Linked DNA regions of Homo sapiens: regions 1 and 2 are each linked to region 3. The links come from fine-mapping of genetic effects on gene expression. A gene starts in region 3. Each other region holds a variant in brackets. All regions are shown on one strand. Distances are from middle to middle.

Region 1 (7,295 bases), 980 kb after region 3:
TATGATAACAGCCCATAGTTCTCAGGCGACACACCTGTGCATCATGCTACTGTACCAATTACTGCAGGCAATTGTAACACAGTTGTAAGTATTTACGTATCTAAGCATATCTTAACATACAAAAGGTACAGAAAAAATATAGTATTATAAACTTATGGGACCACCGTCATATGTTTGGTCCTTTATTGACCTAAACATCACTATGTGGTACATGACTCTACTTCAGGTGATAGGTACATGTTAATTAGATTGATTTAATTATTGCACATGGTATTCATAAATAATAACATCATTTTGTACCCCATAGATACACACAACTATAATTTGTCAATTTACAATTAAAAGATAAAAATATAAAAACTTACATAAGACATAATTTTTACTACAATTTCTTCTTTAACTTATTAACTAAGCACAATGCATTTCTGAATTTTCAAATTTCGGGAAATTTATTTTTTTTGTTTATATTTAACATAAATAAGCTACGATCAGAAACCCAGGTCTGTATGATACAGTTTGAAATTTGTTGAGGGTTTTCATGTGTGCCTAGGAAATTTACAAATTTCGTTTGTAAATTTTTATAATTTCCACATATATAATTAGGGAGTGTCATGCCCTCATATTCAAAAGACTCTTTGGCTAAATATAATACTCAAAATTTTATGGTTATTTTTCTGAATACTTTGAAATTATTACTCTATTACTCATAATTTTATAAATATTTTATATAAGCTTGAAAATGTACATTATAAAGTTGTTGAAGACACTACATATGTCCATTAAGTCAAGTTCTTTGTGTTGTACATATTATCTTTATTCTGGATAATCTTCCGTTATTTCACCTATCAAGTAGAGAGGTATGTTGAAATTTCCTACCATAATGGTGATTTAATCAAAAACTTTTTAGCAGTTTTATCACTTTTTCTTTGTATACTTTGAGAATATTAAAGCAATAAAGTTTTAAGAATTGCTAAATGGTTTTGGTGTATCAAAACTTTTAATCACTATGAAATAGCTCTCATCACTAATAACTTTTTTCTAGTAATCTTGTTTAAATCATATTAAAATATCTATATAATCTTTCTTTAGATTTTTCCTGATACATTTTTCCATTCTTTTTCAACCATTTTTTTCTTTAGAATTTCTGTTTTAGACAACAGATGCCAGTATTGAAAAAATTCAACCTGCCAATTTTTGTTTAATAATTGTCTAAAATACATTTTAATTATTTACATATTTGGGCCTATTTATAAAATTTTGATATTTCAATCTGTCCTGTATTTTCTGCTTACAAAAGATTTCATCACCTTACTTCACTCCTCTTTTGCAACATCTGGAATTTTCTCTCCTTTATTTAGGAAGTTTGTTCAGAACTGTTTTCAGTGTGGGTCTTTCTACAGTCATTTATCTGAGCCTTTGCCTGCCTAGAATATTATTTGTCATGCCATCATATTCAAAGGACTCTGGCCAAATATAATATTCTAAATGTTATGGTTATTTTTCTGAATACTTCGAAATTATTACTCTATTATCATCTTGGATTCAGTGTTGCTTTTTATAAAATCTGTTTCTTGTTTTTAGATTTTTGTTTTTTGAATGCTATATGCTCTTTTCCTTTGTAAATTTTTATAATTTCCACATATATAATTAGGGATATATCCTTAAACTTTTTAATAGTATGTCTGAATGTGGGCTTTTCCTTATCTCTTCCTTTATGGATTTTTTTTTATCTGAGATCTTTATTTAAAAGACAATTTTAGAAAATATAGCTCACTATTCAAATATTCAAATATTTTCTCTTTTCTATTTGTTTCTCTCTCTTTCTGGTACTTCTTTTTAATTGAAATTTCAGCACTTTAACTTCTATTCTCCATTTCTCTTAACTTCTTTTATATTTTCTATTAGTTTGCCTTTTCATTCTTCATTCATTCAGTCTGCTATCTCCTATCTTCTTTTATCTCTCTCTCTTTTTTTCTTTTGTGGGACCGAGTCTTGCACTGTGGCCTGGGCTGGAGTGCAGTGGTGCAATCTCGGCTCACTGCAACATCCACCTCCCAGGTTCACATGATTCTCCTGCCTAAGCCTCTCGAGTAGCTGGGATTGCAGGCACACACCAACACACCAGGCTCATTTTTTGTACTTTTAGTAGAGACAGGATTTCACCATGTTAGCCAGGGTGGTCTCAAACTCCTGGCCTCAAGTGATCTGCCCACCTCAGTTGCCTGAAGTGCTGGGATTACAGGCGTGAGCCACTGGGCCTGGCCTCTTTTATCTCTCTTAAGAAAAATTGTCTGAAACTTGGAACTAAGGCAAAGGAAAAGCGCAAGTCCTTTTAGTGTCATACTGGAGCATTGTTTAGTTCCGTTCAAAGATTATCTAACTCTTAGGATAATTGCTTTTGACTTATTCCTTATAACTGCTTAGGGCTCATATTGTGTGAAGCTACAGGTTAATCTGTCAATAATTGATACATAAAAACTAATTTCTGTCTAGTAGAAAAGAATACCTTAAAGGTTTTATTTTTGTTTTCTTTTGCTCTGTAAGACATTAACTGATTTGGTGTCTGATTTAGCAATCATATTCTAGTAATCTGTCTTCCATTGACTATACATATATACCCCATCTTTCAAATTCTCATTTGAACCAACTTTAGCATTCTTTTGGAGTTAAATCTGAGTTAAAATACATTTCACTATGATTTGTATGAGAGTCATATCTTTAACTGTTTGAAAATTATTCTTTGCAACCTCCTTTTAAGTTTTTTTGGCTAATTTAAAATGATTGGCTTTCTAATTATTTTGCTTCTAATTATTTTACTTCCAGTGCACACAATAACCTAACATGTTTTTGTTTTGAAATGATTGGGCCTTACAATGTCTTTTTATTTTGACATACATGCCTTTCCCTCACCAACAGAGATACTGGGTATTTTGTAAGGAAATGAGTATTCAGGGAAATAGACCCTGTAACTGTGAGTCCCTGTGAGCTTAGTGTGGATGTAATGGAGAAGATATGCCTGGGGAGGACTGTCCAGCACCAGAGAGCTGGAGTGACACCTCCACCCCGGCCCCTAAATAACTCCTCAAGTCACCCTGTCACCTTCTTCTGTCCTTACGCTGGGGAGAAGCAGTATCAGGAGGGAACCCTCCTTACATTTGCATCCTGACTCACCTGCACTGAGGGTTTAGATGAGGAGGGTAGCAGAGACTGATTTTACCTAGATCCACCTGTTTTCGTCAGTCTGTCTCAAGCATAGGGCCTCTGGGATGCCATCACTTGCTTCCTGAAGGTGCTGGATTCAGAGCTTGAGTCCTTCCAGGTGTGGGGGCCATCGCTGTATGTCCCAGGAGGATGCTGGGGGAGAGGGAGCAACAGAACTTTAACGGTTCGTTTTCTTCTTCCCCGCTCCCCACAGCCCTCTCTGGTCCTCTTGTGCCCTGTTTCTCCTCTGCAGCTCCTCCAGGGTTGATCTTAGGGAGGGATCCAGATGTCCTAATGGTTTACCATCTTGGAAGGAATGACAATCAGCACTGGCACCTCAAAGTGGGATCCTGCGGCCCACTGCCTTCATGGGCAGATATTCCTAAGATACGACTTATCCCCGGGTCCTGGGATTCGGGTGTGCTGTCATAGCCTTGCCTATTGCTTTACTCCTGGTGCCTTGTGAGACCTCCACTGTGCCGAGTTGTTCCCCCAGCTCTGGCTGTAGGGGAAGGAACACTGCTCTCCACTAGTCCAGTTTGTCTCCAAGGTGGTGCAGTTTCTGTCTTGAATTTCCCACACCACAATG[A/G]TAGCACGTTGAATGGACCTGCCTCAAAAAAAATCATGTCCGACTGGAATCTGTGAGTGTGACCTTTGGAAATAGGATCCTTGCAAAGTAATGAAATTAAGCATCTCAAGATGAGATCATCCTAGATTACCAGGGTGCACTCTAATTCCAGTGACGGTGTTCACATAGGAGAAGAAGAGGGAAAACAGGCACGGAGGCAAGGCCACGTGGAGACAGACAGCGTAGAGTGATGCTGCCACAAGCCAAGAACACAGGGGCCTAAAGCGGGAGACAGAAAGAAGGATTCTCCCCAAGCCGTTGTAATAAGCACAGTCCTGCCGACATCTTGATTTTAGCTTTTGGCCTCCAGCACTGCGAGATAACAAATTTCTGTTGTGTTAAGACAAGTTTGTGAATCTGTTCAGCAGTCATTGGAAACTAACTCAAATAAGAAAGACCAGGCTGTAACCTTTAAGTGTCTTTAGTAAAAGCCTGAGGATAGGCCCAGCGCGGTGGCTCACGCCTACAGTCTCAGCACTTTGCGAGGCCGAGGAGTTGGGCAGATCACCTGAGGTTGGGAGATTGAGACAAGCCTGGCCAACGTGGTGAAACCCTGCCTCTATTAAAAATACAAACAATAGCCGGGAGTGGTTGTGCACTCCTGTAATTCCAGCTACTCAGAGGCTATTGCACAAGAATCGCTTGAACCTGGGAGGCGGAGGTTGCAGTGAGTCGAGACCACGGCACTGCACTCCAGCCTGGGCAACAGAGTGAGACTCCGTTTCGGGGTTTGAGGGGGAAGTCTACGGATAATGGAAGGAAGAAGAGTATGGAGAATAATTTGTAAGCACAAAATAGGCCCAGAGCCATCCTGGGACCCTCCCAGGACTGTCCCACACCAGGGATACTTCCTGCCTCCCTGTGGCCAGAGCGGCATTTGGAAGTTGTCGGGGTGTGGAGATACTGGCCCAATTTCTACCCCTCAGCCTAGAGAGAGGAGGAAGTTCTTTTGCTCACAGCTGACCAAGACTGGCCTTTCAACCCCTCCCAGTCCCAGGATTGACCTTTCCCTTGTTTCAAGAGAAGCTTACTCCCACCTGCAAGCTCTGAGCTCCAATACAACCAATCATCAAATTACCCAAAGGTAGGGTTTTCTAGCCTAAATAGGGGCACAACACCCTGTCCAGGTGAAGCAGCTCCAAGTCAGCCCACTGCAGTTTGAATTTCCAGGTTTCAAAAAAAAAAAATCTCAAAATTGGTGTCACTTGGGTTCATCTTGTTATACTGAGTTCATCTTAAAATGCTTGAAACCTGAGTTTGTAGGAATAGATGCTCTTCGTGAAATCAGTTTTGCTAACAATTACAGCTACGTGAAGTCAGTGCATGAGTGAAGACTTGGAGGGAATCCAAGAATTGCTAATGATTTTGTTAGGCTGGGAAGAGTACGTTAGGTTTAAGGTGATATTACAGGTGAGAGTTTTGGTGTTTATCCTGTCTTGACTTTTAGAGTGCACAATGTTGTTTTTATGGTAAATAAGTATAGACAAAGTTCTGGTGCCGTAAGAAAATTTAGGGGGAAAATATCAGTTTCTAGGGACCAGTTTCTCTGCTGAGAGAAACTTACAGTTTATGTGCATTTCAAATAGTTAATCTGTTGGGGAGGAGAAATGCTTTTCTCTCTTGTTCATAAAGAGGAAACATTTTTTCCCAAATAATTAAAAAAATCGGTCATGAAGAATCCAGGCTGGGTGAGATGAGGGAGGGAGGGAGAGGGAGAGTGAGAGCTGGGGGGAGAGGGAGAGTGAGAGCTGGGGGGAGAGGGAAAGAGGGGAAGAGGGAGAGGGAGACAGAGAGAAGGGAGAGGGAGGGAGAGAGGGGGAAAGAAGGGGGGAAGAGAAAGGGAAATAAAGTGGAGGGAAAAAGGGAGAGGAGAGAAAAAGGGGGGAGATACAGACAGGGAAAGAAAGAGGGGAGAGAAAGGAGAAATTAGAGGAGAGAGAAGGAGAGAAAGGAGCGGGGAGAGATACAAAGGAGAGAGGGAGAGAGGAGCGGGGGAAAGAAAGCGGGTAGAGAGAGAGGGAAATAGAGAGCAGGGAGAAAGGGAGAGAAGGAGATAGACTGGGGAGAGACCCAGAGGAGAGATGAGAGAAAGGGGATTAGGAGAGGGAGGAGGAGAGGGAAAGGAAAGAAAGAAGGGGGAAAAACCGGGAGAAAAAGGGAAAGAGAAGGGATAGGGGAAAGAGGAGAGAAAGAGCCGGGGGGAGAGGGGAGGGAGAGAGAAAAAGTGAGGAAGGAAAGAGACACAGGAGAGAGGAGAGGGAAAGAAGGAAAGAAACGGGGAAGAGAAGGAGGAAGAGTGGGGGGAGGGAGAAGGAGAAAAATGATGAGTAGGGGAGTGAGAAGGTGAAAAAAAGGAGAGTGAGAGAGGGCAGGTGAACACCAGGCCAGGGAATGGGGGGCAACACGAAGACAGCAGAGAGGGGCCAGGGGAGCACCCAGGTCGCAGCCTTTAATTGCCGCCCCTCCCCACCTTGGGCCAGGGCAGAGGAGGGCGGCAGCAGGAAGCTGTGCAGAGCCCAGCAGGAGGAACCTGGATGCCCCCAGGCACTGGGGCAGCGGCTATCCCCACCTGGAACACACTTCTTCATCTCCGCCTGTTGGCGTCCCAAGGGTCCGGTAAGGCTCGCCCCAAATGGTAGCTTTTCTATAAAATCTTTATTGATCAGCCCTCCCCAACACACACACATGTAGTTTGCAAGTTTCTTAAATATTTATTCTATTCTGGCCTGTATGTGCCTCCCTCTTTCCTTAGCCTCTCCTTTCAGACCCTCTGCAGGCTTCTAGTGTTGCCTTTTACAATCGTTCAGGGCAACAAATGTATGCATTTTCAGTGCCTACATTGCGTCTTCCATGTTGTCAAGAGGAATATGTTTATAACTAATTTGAAGCCCAGTGATGAAATGATAGTTAGATTATGCTGTGATAATAACAGAAATCAGTGAAAAGAACATCAAATTATACTTATCTCTTCATTTGTTAAGCACTAGGTTTAGTGTATATGTTTTAAAAATCAGTTACAACTTAGACAAAGCTGTATTTTATAGTCAAAAACAAAAAAGTACTTGCTGGGGACAAGTTGCTCACGCCAGTAATCTCAGCACTTTGGGAGGCTGAGGCAGGCAGATGACTTGAGGTCAGGAGTTCGAGACCATTGTGGCCAACATGGCAAAATATCCGTCTCTACTAAAAATTCAAAAATTAGCTGGGCATGGTGGCATATAATTGTAATCCCAGCTACTCAGGAGGTTGAGGTGGGAGAATTGCTTGAACCCAGGAGATGGAGGTTGCAATGAGTCAAGATCGCACCACCGCACTCCAGCCTGGGAGACAGAGCAAGACTCCATCTCAAAAAAAAAAAAACAAACAAAAAAAACTACCAACAAAAGATTGAAAAGCCATGCCACTCTTTATTATCCGTGCCTATCGTCAGAATCTGTTTAGGCCACATGGCTGTAATGTAGTCACC
Region 2 (7,295 bases), 740 kb before region 3:
GGGCCTAAGAAATTAATCAAGAAGAGACAGGAGGCCTCAGAGGATGCCCAGACCTGGGTGGTCCAAGCTGTGGCCTGTACCCATTCCTGGGTTGTACCATCAATTTAGTGGGCCATGAGCAGCATTAGAAAGATGTATATATTTTCCTATATGTGTCCTGGGTCACAAGATGAAATGTATTTCTTACGGTATTCTGTCCAGAAAAGTCTGAAATCTACCAACTTTAGTCCAGTATCCTCTTCATACCTCTGAGAATGAGAAGCCCAGAGAGGCAGGGTGAGTTGCCCTCCAGGCCAGCACTTTTCCTGGGGCCCCTTGGCTTGGCTGGAGGCTCCTTTGCAGGCTGCTCCCAGCCCCAAGGTCAAGGATTACTGGCAGCCTCGGGGTCCCTGGGATTACATGGGAGCTGTGCACCCCTAAGGGGAGGGCAGCAGGTACTGCCAGGACTGGCCCCGATGCTCACCTGGGGACATGGCCTTCATGTCTCGGGGGAACTTGCGGCACACGTTGTTGTAGTTGGTGCAGATGTGGTGGAGACACCAGTCGGCCAGCTGGTACGCACAGTGGAACTGGGGACAGAAGGGAAGAACGTCTGTACTGAAATCCCCAGGGGAGAGGGTCTGCATAGACACCTCCAGCTGCCTTCAGAGCTGAAGCTCTGGTGCAGGGCACGCAGAGGCCCTGCAGTTCTAGAGAGCCTGCGCCAGAGGCAAGGCCACACAAAACTGAGGATGATGATGCTGCCTCAGGCTCCTTGGCACCACCGCCAGCACCACCATCATCTCACCTCTGTTCTGCCCACTCCTGGCATCCTCGCTGCAGACACCAGAGCCCTATGTAGTGGCTTCATACTGCATCTGCCCTCCTCAGATCTCAACCTACCTGACTTCTCTCTCCTCCACATCTGGGATCAAGGCAGCCTGCACGGAGGCACTGACAATGAGCTAAGGGAGCTGCCTTCCCAGGGGTGTCTGCAAGCCCTGCCTGAGCCGTGCTTCCACTCCACACACTAATCTTTGGTGGCTGAATTTCTGGCACTGTGAAGGCCACTGTGGGAGATTTGGCTTGTTTGTTTGGGATTAAGGGAGTAGGCGGTTAATTTCAGATGGAAAGTCCTCAGTGCCCCTTAAATGACCTCAGGCAGGCAGCAACCATGTGTAAGCCTGAGCCTGGGGTTCCCTCCCCAGCCCTACTGCTGCCTAAAGCCTCATCCCTTCCCCACTTGGTCAGCTCCCCTCCGGGTACACCAGGGAGTTCCCCAGCTGCTTCCTGGCATGGAGGAGGAGATGGGCTACGCGCAGTCAAAGAGCCCAGTCCGATGACAGGTTCTCCCGCATAGACCATCTTCCACCCCTTCCCATTCGCAGCCAATGGGCAGGCAGAGTGTAGAACTGAGACTGTTGTAGATTCCCTCCCCTGCCATGATACCTGAGCCAGTTCCAGGAACACAAGGACGTCCCCATCGATGTCCACCATCATCTGGGTCGCTTCCATCAGCCCGGTCACTGTGTACTGCTCTGTAACACACACGGCCACCAATCAGCTGAAGAAGCACATGACCTGTGCTCACCCTGCCCCACCACATCCCCCAGCTCACTTCAGGGTGAGGAAAACCAGGGCCCGGGCAGGTCCGGACAGGCCAGGAAAGGCCCCAGGCTATGACGTCTGCTGCCACCAGGGGGACCCCAGGGATGACAGCAAGAGCTCAACGGGGTAGGGTAGGAAGAGAAGGAGGACATTGGAATTACCTAAGAGGATTTTTCAAACTACGTATGTCCCGTGACATAATCTGATACAGGTAGGGTCAAAGTTCCCAACAGAACCAGCCTCTGATACAAAAGGGAGAGTGTGTGAAACCTCATGTCTGCTGATCACAGAAAAAGGCTGAGAACTGTGAGTTAGAACTAGGAGTTAAGTCTAGTTGTTTGTTTTAATTTAAATTTTGTAAAAAATTGTGTACTAACCTTGTATTTTAAGTTAAAACACTTATATTGAAGAAGTAAACACCCTTGGTTCTGAATTTTAATTAGAAGTATCAGTATAAACTCATGAGGTATCTTATCTTTAAAAAGATCAATATATTTCCCAGCTCTGCCCCCAGAAAAGACCTAGAAACAACAGTCATCCCAGTACAATGAGCATTCCTAGTGCACACAAATACCAGTTCCACTTCCAACACAAGAAACTAGGACTTCCTGGAGAAATGGCTGATTCCAGGTCTGGGGCACAGAACCTTCAAGAGGAACCTAGAACATCTCATCATTCCAGATAGAGAGGAAGCTCGTAAGACTCTGGAGTCAAGCCAAAGAGTGCAGGATTTGAGCTTCAGCAAGGATAACTGCAATTAACTGAAACCAATCAAGAATGTTCAAATCTAAGGGGCCATAATAATACTTCAAAAACAAACAACTGGCCGGGCACGGTGGCTCACGCCTATACTCCCAGCACTTTGGGAGGCCAAGGCGGGTGGATCACTTGAGGCCAGGAGTTCAAGACCAGCCTGGCCAACATGGTGAAACCCTGTCTCTACTAAAAATACAAAAATTAGCCGGGTGTGTTGGTACGTGCCTGTAATCCCAGCTACTCGGGCGACTGAGGCATGAGAATCTCCTGAACCTGGGAGGTGAAAGTTTCAGTGAGCCGAGATCACATCACTATACTCCAGCCCAGGTGACAGTAAGACTCCATCTCCAAAAATAAAAAATAAAAGTAAAAAATAATGCAAAAAACCATGCTGTAGTGTTTAATGACACACACTTGGATGATAAAACTATAAAGGAAAGTAAGGCAGTATGCCCATAAAAAGTGCCATAAAAAAAGGAATACTAGGCAAAGGGCTTCCTCTTAGGGAGGAGAGAGGGGTCTGTGAGAGAGGAGGGAGAGGTGGAGGACTTCTGGTGGCCAGCAAGGTTCTAGTTCCTGACATAGGTCATGAGTAGAAAGGCATTTTCTTTATAATAATTCATTAAACTAGGCCAGGCTTGGTGGCCCACGCCTGTAATCACAGCACTTTGGGAAGCCGAGATGGGAGGATCACTTGAGGCTGGAGTTTAAGACCAGTCCAGGCAACACAGTGAGACCTCATCTCTGCAAAAAATTTAAAAATTAGGCCGGGTGTGGTGGCTCACGCCTGTAATCCCAGCACTTTGGGAGGCCAAGGTGGGTGGATCACTTGAGGTCAGGAGTTCAAGACCAGCCTGGCCAACATGGCAAAACCCCATCTCAAATTACAAAAATTAGCTGGGTGTGGTGGTGTATGCCTGTAGTCCCAGCTACTCAGGAGGCTCAGGCAGGAGAATCGCTTGAACCCAGGAGGCAGAGGGTGCAGTGAGCCAGGATTGCACCACTGCACTCCAGCCTGAGAGACCAAGTGAGACTCTATGTCAATAAATAAATAAATAAATAAAAATAAATTTAAAAATTAGCTGGGTGTGATGAGGCAGGCCCATAGTCCAAGGTACTTGGGAAGCTGAGTTGGGAGGAT[C/G]GCTTGAGCCCAGGAATTTGAGGCTGCAGTGAACTATGATCAGGCCATTGCACTCCAGTCTGCGTGACAGAGCAAGATCCTGTCTCTAAAAAAACATAATAACAATAGTAATTCAGTAACCTGAACATATGTTTAATATGCTTTTATGTATTTGTGTTCTACTGAGCAATAAAAGTTTTCAACTTGAATTAATGGCCTCATAGGAAGCATATGTCACAAAACTTAAACCATCGCCAATTATATAAAACTTGGCATCTTCCCCTGATCCTTAACAAGGCAGATATAAACATTTTTGTGGATGTTCCCTAGTGTGTATCGATAATTTCATGAAAAGTTACTTAACATTATTTTCAATAAGCCTTTCCATGCAGCAGTCTAGTTTAACATTTTTAATGACTACCATGTGAAAACTGCCTGTGTGTGCTTCACCAACGGTTTTTCTGTGACTTGCTTTCAATTGCCTGCCATGACGAAATGAACTTCTAGAAATACCTTTATGCATTTTTCCCCTTTGGGTCATTTCTCTGGAGATAGTCTTTTAAAAGTGGAATTATTCCATCTAGGAATTTGAAGTTTTATGTGCTCTGGGAAGATCACACCATTTTTTTATGGACAGCAAAACAAGATATACTGTTGTAGCTGGGATCTTTAGATGCCTCTCTTGCTACCTGCCCCAAAGTTCCCTTTATCCCCTTCTGGGGACCCTGGACTCCCACTGCAGCCTCCGCTCTTAATATTCTGGTTCTGATCAATGATTTCTGCCTTCTTTCTGTAACCCAGCCCCACCTTATCATTCATTTTTCCTCACGGATTGCTGTTTTCCCTCATATCTGAGCCCCGATCTTGATCATCTGCCTGGACCCCAGCAGCTCTGACACTGGGTTCTTCCCTGAATCTCAACTCAGTATGTGAGGATGTGCTCTCTGTCCCCGACCTATGCAAGAATATTAACCTCGGCATCAACACCAGCGCTGGTACCCCTGCCGCCACCACTAGCAACTCAAGTGCCAACTCCAACATGAACGAGAGCCGTCTGCCTGCCTGGGTCTCTGGCCCCAGGCTCCCTTCACCCCACGAGCACCACTTCTCTTCCCTGGCCCCTTGGACCCAGACTGCCTGCCGCTGGCTCTCCCCCATGACTCAGTTCTTGTTCCAACTCAGAGAGCCCCTGGGATTTGTCCACACTAAAAGCTGAGCTCCGGCTCGTACAATCCGTGCAGGGACTAAGGAGTGGCAGGGATGTTTGTGTGCTGTTTCTGGAAAGAGGATGAGAAGGTGATGTCAAAGGTAGGGGAAGAAGAAAAAAGGCAAAAGAAGAAAAATAAAAGGAAAGGAAGAAGGAGGAGAACCACAGGGTAGAAATGTGGGAATTGTGTTCTATTATTTTTTGACTTCTTAAGCTTGTCCAAGTGAAGCCAAGCAAAGAACATAAAGCACTGTCATGTTCCATTTTTTGTTTGTTTGTTTTTGAGACACAGTTTCACTCTGTCACCCAGGCTGGAGTGCAGTGGTGCAAACTCAGCTCACTGCAAACTCCACCTCCCGGGTTCAAGCAATTCTCTTGCCTCAGCCTCCCGAGTAGCTGGGATTACAGGCGCCTGCCACCAAACACAGCTAATTTTTATATTTTTAGTAGAGACGGGTTTCATGGCAGTTTGCCATGACGGGTAAGACCATGTTGGCTAGGCTGGTCTTAAACTCCTGGCCTCAAGTGATCCTCCCGCCTTGGCCTCCCAAAGTGCTGGGATTATAGGTGTGAGCCTCTGTGCCCAGCCTCATGTTCCATTTTGTTGGGTTTAAATCGCCTTTGGAGAGAGCCTCTCAGGTGACCCCATCAAACATGCCCCGCACCACCCTTCTTCACTCTGTGTCCTCATCCAGAACTCTGTGCCCGTCAACAGATTCCATTTCATGTACGCTTAGTCCCTTGGACATCAGCTTGTCCCCCAGGAGAGACGTGAGAGGAGAACATTGCACCTTGGGGTTTCCCTGGCCTCTGCCGCGGGGAGGTCCCCGAGTGCACTGCTTAGTTACCTGTGAGGGCAACCAGGTGTGGCAGGCAGAGGCGGTTGGCTAGAATGATGAGCTTCATGTCATCCAGGTCGGGGCTGGAGGTGAACATGCCGGTGTAGAGGTATTCCAGCACGGCCCGCATGCAGCTCTTGCTTGTGTAGGGAAACACCACCTGGGGAGGGAAGGAGTGAGCGGACAGCAATGAGATCCTGCTTAGGAGAAGATGAACTGAACCCTGAGAAATTGAAGAGCTCTGGCCCTCACACCCAGGCTCCCCCAGACGGGCAGCCTTCCCTGTGCTGCATGTGTATCTGCTGAGAAGACCCTGAGAACACCTGACCCCTAGAGCGACAACCTGTGCTGAGCCCCAGTTTGCTGACAGCACCAGAGTACAGGCCTCTACTATCATTTATGTGTTTATTTTTAGAAACAGCGTCTTGTTATGCCATCCAGGATGGTCTTGAACTCCTGGTCTTAAGCATTCCTCCTGCCTCAGCCTCCTCAGTAGCTGGGACTATAGGCACAAGCCATGGCGTCCAGCTTCTAAACTCTTCCAAAGGGACCCAGATACTACTCACTGGCACCCTTTGGAAGCCGCTCTTGCTCGCGGGATGCTTGAAGGAGGCCTTCTGGTCACCTCAATCTACACCTCAGTCCCTCCCATCCCTGCACAGAACAGAAGTGGGATACAGAATAAGTAAGGCCCACAGCAGCTGATTTCTTTCTGTCTGCTCAGAGCTGCTGCTTTGGGCCTCCAGGATCTCTTGAGAGCAGCGCTGCAACACAAACTGCCTTCTCATCAGGCTCTCCAGGCTGTGCTGGGAACTGGCTAGAAGTTTAAAGCTGGCGTCTACAGTACCGAGAAGTGCCCGGGGCTGGCAGGCCCCTGGGGCTTGTGAGAGCTCCTAGTCTCACATTTTGTATATCCAAATCCTACTCCCACTTCAGAGACCAACTCCCAACGCTTCCACTTAGCCTTCCTTAAGTACTTCCTTCCCAGAAATCTTAGAAAATGCACATTCCACATCACGGGATGCGATGCAGCCCAGCCTCGTGCTTGGTTCTGTTTTTCATTCAAGCATTTGGTGAGCATTTCCCAAGAGACTGGCGCTGAGAGGGTTTTTGGCAGAAGGAAAAAGACCCAGTCCCTGCGCTCAGAAGCAGTTACAGAACAGTAGGGGAAACGGTGTGGACGTTCAGAACTCCACGCGCCTGCACAAAGTCGAACCTCGTTAACTACAAGGTTCGACGACACTCAGTGATGGGCAATTGAGGTCCAGGAGTTCAGAGCACACCAAGGGCTACTGCCCAGGCTACTCTGCTTGGAATGGAAAAGAGACCAAACCTAAGAGAATATTTCTAAGGACACATTGATAGGCTTCTTCCAACCCTAAGTTTCCAATCTAGGTGAGTGAGAAAGTGGTGGCATCGTGAGAGCTAGAGGGTCACTGATTAGAGAGGCAGGTGGTTCTATTAAGTATGCTTTTCCTTCCCTTCCTCCCTCCCTCCCTCCCTTCCTTCTTTTCTCTCTCTCTCTCTTTTTTTCTTTTTTTCTGTAGAGATGGTGTCTGTGTTTCCCAGGCAGGTCTCAAACTCCTGGGCTCAGGCAATCCTCCCACCTCAGCCCCTCAAAGTGCTGGGATTACAGGTGTAAGCCACCCCCTACACCTATTTTCTGTATTTTGTTGCTTTGACAACTAAAGCCTTGCTGGCCCTATAGGGACTGCCTCCCTCAGGGCTGGCCAAGTCCTAGGGATAGTGAAGGAGTTGCCTGCAAGTGTGCCTTTCATATGCAAAC
Region 3 (7,295 bases):
GCTAAGGCAGTTTTTATGTATGAGGATGACTTTGGTTTATAAACAATTTCTTTTCCTCCCCCCCTTTTTTTTTTAGACGGAGTTTCACTCTTATTGCCAAGGCTGGAGTGCAATGGTGCAATCTTGGCTCACCGCAACCTCTGCCTCCTGGGTTCAAGTGATTCTCCTGCCTCAGCGTCCCGAGTAGCTGGGATTACAGGCATGCAGCACCATGCTCGGCTAATTTTGTATTTTTAATAGAGACGGGGTTTCTCTATGTTGGTCAGGCTGGTCTCGAACTCCCGACCTCAGGCGATCAGCCCACCTGGGCCTCCCAAAGTGCTGGGATTACAGGTGTGAGCCACTGTGCCTGGCCTATAAACAATTTCATAGTTAACACAGCCATATCATAAAATTATTGTCAACAAATATTTATGGGTTTTTGCTTTGTTTTTGGCCTCTCTTTCCTACATAAGAGTCCTAACTTTTTTCCAGTCTATGATTGCACCAAATTCTCTTCCTTGATCTGTTTAGCTGCTTCTCCGAATCTCTATCCAATTCTTTTTTACAAAATTCTTCCTTCAGGCTGAGCACACACACACAGTGGTTCATGCCTGTAATCCCAGCACTCTGGGAGGCCCAGGTGGGAGGACCATTGAGGCCAGGAGTTTGAGGCCAGTCTTAGGAACACAACGAGACCCTGTCTCTACAAATAATTAAAAAATAGAAAAAAAAATTTTAAAAACTCTCTTCTTTCAAACTCCATCAGAAGTCTCCAGAGTACACAGTCTTTCTGCTTTGAGCCTACAATACTTGCTCAGTCTCACAGGTTGCATTTAACACCCTTCTCTCTCCCAGGTTACCCGGGGTGAGGCTCTCCCTGGCTTCCCTACCAAATCTAAAGCCCATCAGGTCTCTTCAAAATCACTTCATAACCTGTAGGTCGGGCATGGTGGCCCATGCCTGTAATCACAGCACTTTGGGAGGCCGAGGCGGGTGGATCACTTGAGATCAGGAGCTCAAGAGCAGCGTGGCAAACATGATGAAACCCTGTCTTTACTAAAAATACAAAAATTAGCCAGGCATGGTGGTGCATGCCTGTAATCCCCCCTCCTCAGGAGTCTGAGGCACAAGAATTGCTTGAACCCAGGAGGCGGAGGTTGCAGTGAGTCAAGATCGTGGCACTCCAGCCTGGGTGACAGCACAAGATTCTGTCTCAAAAAAAAAAATATATATATATATATCACTTTATAACCTACAGATTTCAAGACTCCCTCTTTAAGGGGCTCCTCTCATTGTCCTGACTTGCCCCTGATTCCTGAAAAATATTTCTTAACGGAAAAGAATTTTTTTTTTTTAAGAGACAGGGTCTTGTTCTGTCATCCAGGCTACAGTGAAGTGGTGGCATCTTAGCTCACTGCAGTCTCAACCTCCTGTGCTCAAGCAGTCCTCTTGTCTCAGCCTCCCAAGTAGCTAGGACTTCAGGCACCTGCCACCATACCCAGCTAATTTTTAAAAAAAATTTGTAGAGACGGGATCTTGCCATGTTGCCCAGGCTGGTCTCAAACTGCTGACCTCAAGTGATCCTCTCACCTCAGACTCCCCAAATGCTGGGAGAAGCCTCTTCTTAACTTTCAAAAAGCTGTCTTGGCCGGGGGTGGTGGCTCGCGCCTGTAATCCCAGCACTCTGGAAGGCCAAGGTGGGCAGATCACAAGGTCAGGGGTTCGAGACCAGCCTGACCAAAATGGTGAACCCTCATCTCTACTAAAAATACAAAAATTAGCTGGGCATGGTGGCCTGCGCCTGTAATCCCAGCTACTCGGGAGGCAGAGGCAGGAGAATCGCTTGAACCTGGGAGGCGGAGGTTGCAGTGAGCAGAGATCACGCCACTGCACTCCAGCCTGCGCTACGGAGCGAGACTCCGTCTCAAAACAAACAAACAAACAAACAAAAAAGCTGTCTTAAGTATTAGCTACAGAGAAATCATACATTTAAAGAAAATATTAACACACAATTCATAAACCCACAGCGTAAGTGCAGACAGTTCAGGAACTTGCAAAATTTATTGAACTAAACTATCCTCTTTCACACTCTAAACGCAGGATATGACTCCCTTTCTTGAAGGCTATATTTAACTGCTAACACCCCTTTTCGGTGAGCCAGGACTCTGCTCACACCTCCCCAACACCACCCAAAGAATCCCAAGCAATCAGTATGCTAACAGCTACATACTCAGAAGCGCTGGACGGCCTCCCTTAAGGGACATCTGGAATCTTCCTCTTTGTCCACGCTTCCCTCAACCTCCAGCACCACTTCTATAGATTCAGGTAGCTCCCCCAGAGGGCCCTCTCCCAGTGTGGGTTTCCCCCTGGGATCAGGTAGCAGATACTTGGCTGTCCGAAAGGTTCAATGGGGAGCGAACCCAGGACGGGCTGGGCCTGCCTCCCTCGCATCCCTGGGTGCGTGCTCCGCGCTGAGGCCTCGCGACTCGGGCCTAACCAGAAGCAAGGCCCCCGAAGGCGAGTCCCATCCCCTTTCCACCCCGAGAAAAGCACCTTTCCCCAAAGCCACAGCCCTGCCAGGGGTTCTATCTCCTCTCTCAGGCCAAATAAGACGTCCACTTGGGCCTCCGGAGGGCCTCCCCTGCCGCCCCAACCTGGACACCTTCTTGGGGCCGCGGCGCCGGGCCTCGAATAACGACTTCCCGCCCCCGCCCGACCCGCAACCCTCAGCAGCTCCCCGAAGTGGGAGGGGAGAGGCCCGGGAGGGCGGCTCACCCCACGTGCTTGAGCAAAAACCCAACCTGCCCGCCCCCGAGCGACCCTGGCCTGCCTGGCATGCCGCAACCGGGGCCAGTACTCACCTGTGCGCGAGTCCTCGCCCCAGTCGCCCAGCTCCGCGCGGCCTCAGGGGAAGACCGAGCTCAACCCACGCCCCGGGGCCCACATGCTCCAGGGCCAATTTCCGCTCTTCGAGGCCTCCGGGGATGAGCCCATTGGCCACAAGACCTGTCGTTCACAAGAGCAAGCTATCTAATTGGCCCATCTGCAAGAGAGGCTCGTCCTTTCCAGCAGGTTCCCTGTGCAGGGGCGGTTCGTGCGGAAGGAGCGCTGGGAGTTATGTGAACCTCAGCGTTAAAATGTGTTAGGGTTTGGAGATCCTGACTCCCTTTCTGGGGGCAACTCCTATAAACAGATTTAGCCTAAGACTCGCGTGTTGAAATTGACTTGCCCCATTCCTGCCAGTTAAGAGGATTAGCGATACAGGTGGTGAAAAAGAAACGGTAAGCTCGAGTGCGCATTCAAACACCTAATTCATATGATTTCTGCACATCACTTTCGTTATACATAAAACAGAGATAAAAACTAAAAACATCCATTCATAGGGTTGAATGGAAATGTACACACATAATGACATAACGTATGTAAAATACTTAGCACAAGGAGAAGACGACCCTCGATAAATGTTGCCTATTTTTATTGATGCCTAAATCTGTGAGCCAAGAAGAGCTTTCTAGGAAGCAGATTAAATTATCAGTGGTTACTTCAGCAACTACAGAATGATTTTACCCAAAGAAAGATTTCTGACCCTCTCCCAACCATTTTGTCAAATAACTGCATCCCTCTCCCACACCCAGGTTTTACAGTGTGGTTGAGGTAAAGCTTCTGAAGGCTTTGGCGGATGCTATAGAGACATCCAAGGGCTCTGCATGGAATAGGACTAGAGAAGGGTTAACCTTATTTTTTCCAGGCCTCAGATATCCCATGACTTATTTTAATCCACACATACAAGGGCCCTCCCTATCCTTCCCGAATGAGGATAGTCTGAAAATTATTGGAGCAGGATGATTTTCAACTCAGGAATCCAGTTGGCACGATGCCCCTTCACTGTTCCTAGATAGTATTTGTTTACCATGATCTAACATTTTCACTTCCTTTACCACACAACCTTCTTAACTTGCAGCTGTTGCAATGTTATGTTGTAAGCAATTCTCCTGCCTGTGCAAATACTTAATGGTAGCAAGTGCAGTCAAAAACAGTTATACAAACTGTTTTGTAACTTTCGTGAAGATCCAACTCCTTGTTCTTTTAGGAACTCCGACCAAACTTTGCATGACACACTTATTCTATACACATGAAACAATATTTTGGGGGCAGGATTCAGCAAATCTTCTAGTTGAAGTAAGGGAATAATAATCCTCAGATAATTTCCTGAGTATGTCTTCTATTTGGGAACCTAAACCAAGAGCACCATTACAAAGGGTATGCACATTGGGTTTCCTAGATTTCTATATCCTGTCCATCCATGCAAGTGTAGGTGGCCTTCGTACAGTATTTCTAGCTAATCCAGACATCATTAACACTACTTATTTAACCAAAGGAAAATCCATATAGTCCTGCTGTTGATTGGACATAAAAATGGTTGAAGCTTTCTGAAACGTGGACATCTATTTAGGACCTTTCAAAAGCTAATCAACCTCTTTTGGAGATTATATTCCCTAACAGAGTACTTTAATTGTTAATTAGCCATCCCTAGGATATTGATTAAAAAGGACACACATAATCTCATCACAAAAAGATGAGTATGTGAGGTGATGGATATGTTAATTTGGTTTAATCATTCCACAATGTAAATAAATATCAGAATATCATACTGTACCACATAACCATATGTAATTGCTATTTGTTAATTAAAAATGAAAGGGGCAAAAAGAGCACGTATATCACACTAAGAGATAGTATTTTGAGATAAATCACAGATTTTTTTTTTAACTCAAAAAAGTCGTAACACCAAATTCTGTCCACCTGGCCCTGCCAGTCTCTAAAATTCAGAGTGAAAATGGCCCCATAACTATACATAACCTGAATTTTCCTAGGCAGTCATGACTCCAAATACCCTGGGCACTTGGTCACCATAAATATTTCTATTCCAACCATGTATTCTGGTTTGTTGTTGTTGTTGTTGCTGCTGTTCAGAAAATAAGATCCCCAGAGCCACAGCAAGATTAAGGGCAGAAAATTACATTACTGGTGGGGCCTAAAACCTATAGGAAGGATTTCATTTAAAGTAGACCTATGTAGTATGTCTGGGTTCCTGGCAGAGATAACTAGAAATCCTTTCAGGAGAAATACACCAGGCTCCCAAAACTCCCACGTAAAAGGTATGAATAAATATGAGCTCACGAAACACATCAGGCCGAATAACAGGAGGACACACAATCTAATAAAAAAATGGGCAAAAGGTATGGTGGCTCACATCTGTAATCCCAGCACTTTAGGAGGCCAATGTGGGCAGATGGCCTGAGGTCAGGAGTTCGAGACCAGCCTGGCCAACATGGTGAAATGCTGTCTCTACTAAAAACATAAAAATTAGCCAGGCATGTTGGTGTGGTGCCTGTAATCCCAGCTACTCGTGAGGCTGAGGCAGGAGAATCACTTGAACCCGGGAGGCGGAGGTTACAGTGAGCTGAGATCACGCCACTGCACTCCAGCCTGGGCAACAAGTGCAAAACTCTCTCTCAAAAAAAAAGGGGGGGGGGCCAAAAGATGTGAGTGGACCTGTGTCAGTCCATTAGTCCCTTTAGTGTTACTATAAAGGAATACCTGAGGCTGGGTAATTTATAAAGAAAAGAGGTTTATCGAGCTCATGGTTATGCTGGCTGGAAGGTTCAAGACTGGACACCTGGTGAGGACCTCAGGGTGCTTCCACTCATGGCAGAAGGCAAAGAGACCCGGCCTGTGCAGAGATTACATGGAGAGAGAGGAAGCAAGAGAGGGGAGGGAAGCGCTAGGTTCTTTTTAACAACCAGCTCTTGTTGGAACTAATAAGCCCTTTAGTAGAGACAGGGTTTCACCATATTGCCCAGGCTGGTCTTGAACTCAGTGGCTTATGGGTGTGAGCCACCACCCCTGACTGGAGCCGTAAAATTTAATGGAATTTGTCCTTCAGTATCTGCAGAGTATTGGTTTTTAGGACCTCCCTCCATGGATACCAAAATTCACAGATGCTCAAGTCTCTTATATAAAATGGTGTATTTTATATTTGCATATAACCTATGCACATTTCCCTGTATACTTTAAATTGTCTCTAGATGAATTATAATACCAAATACAGTGTAAATGCTACATAAATAGTTGTTACACTGTATTGTTTAGGGAATAATTACAAGAAAAAAGTCTGCACCTGTTCAGTACTGATGCAGCCATCCTTTTTGTTTTTTCCAAATATTTTTGATTTGTGGTTGGTTTAATCCATGGATGCAGAACCCGTGGATAGGGAGGGCCTATTGTATTTAGATGAGATCTTAGACTTGCAATTGATACTGAAACGGTGTAAGACTTTGGGGGCTGTTAGGATGGGGCGAATGTGTTGCATGTGAGAAGAACATGAATTTGCGGGGGACAGAGGGAGGAATGTTAGGGAGTGAATTGTGTCCTCCTTGCAAAACCTATGTTGAAGCCCTAATCCCCTGTATTTGGAGATAAAGTATGTAGGGAGATAATTAACATAAATGAGGTAAGGAGGAGCTCTAATCTGATAGGATTTGTGTCCTTATCAGAAGAGAAAGACATGAGATCTTTCTCTATCTCTATCCCTCTCTCTTCATGGAAGCACAGAGACAAGGCCATGTGAGGACACAGCAAGATGGCGGCCATCTATAAACTAGGGAGATGGTACTCACCAGAAATCAAATTTGCCAGCACCTTGATCATAGAATCATAGTCTCCAGAGCTGTGAGAAAACAAATGTGTGTTGCTGAGGCCACCCAGTCTGTGGCAATTTGTTATGGCAGGCCTGTCTGACTAATAGAATAACAGAAGTCAGCAAGGATGTGGTGGAACAGGAACCCTCAGACATTGCCAGTGGGAATGTAAAATGATGCAGCCTCTTTGGGAAACATTTGGCAGTTTCTCAAAAAGTTAAGAAAAAAATTACTGTAGGAACCAAAATTTCACTTCTTGGTAGCTACCTAAGAAAAATGAAAACATGTCCACACAAAACTTGCATGCAAATGTTCATAGCAGCATTATTGATAATTGCCAAAAACTTCACCTAAATGTCCATCAACTGGTAAATGAATAAACAGAAATTTGTATGCTTAACAATGGGGATGCGTTAAAAAAAAAAAGGAGGCCGGGCACGGTGGCTCATGCCTGTAATCCCGGCCGGGTGCGGTGGCTCATGCCTGTAATCCCTGCACTTTGGGAGGCCAAGGCGGGTGGATCGCCTGAGGTCAGGAGTTCGAAAGCAGCCTGGCCAACATGATGAAAACCCATCTCTACTAAAAATACAAAAAATTAGCTGGGTGTGGTGG

What was found.
Region 1: its variant is fine-mapped to the expression of PIWIL2 in tibial artery (GTEx, PIP 0.96).
Region 2: its variant is fine-mapped to the expression of PIWIL2 in cerebral cortex (GTEx, PIP above 0.99).

The regions. Positions count from the first base shown.
Region 1 is chr8:21,294,284-21,301,578 of GRCh38, reverse strand. It overlaps LINC03093 (long intergenic non-protein coding RNA 3093), which reads right to left and starts at 3,340. Exons shown (of 3, transcript NR_104677.1): 1 at 3,172-3,340. The variant A/G (reference allele first, on the strand shown) is at 3,791.
Region 2 is chr8:23,008,912-23,016,206 of GRCh38, reverse strand. RHOBTB2 (Rho related BTB domain containing 2) reads right to left here. Exons shown (of 10, transcript NM_015178.3): 7 at 5,519-5,669; 8 at 1,429-1,517; 9 at 464-569. Among named protein-coding and RNA genes, the nearest start is that of RHOBTB2-AS1, 13 kb to the right of the region's middle. RefSeq lists enhancers at 1,565-1,614, 1,116-1,880, 6,949-7,295. The variant C/G (reference allele first, on the strand shown) is at 3,485.
Region 3 is chr8:22,270,947-22,278,241 of GRCh38, reverse strand. It overlaps PIWIL2 (piwi like RNA-mediated gene silencing 2), which reads right to left and starts at 2,926. Exons shown (of 23, transcript NM_018068.5): 1 at 2,844-2,926. It overlaps PIWIL2-DT (PIWIL2 divergent transcript), which reads left to right and starts at 3,080. Exons shown (of 2, transcript NR_134293.1): 1 at 3,080-3,263. RefSeq lists an enhancer at 2,001-2,646.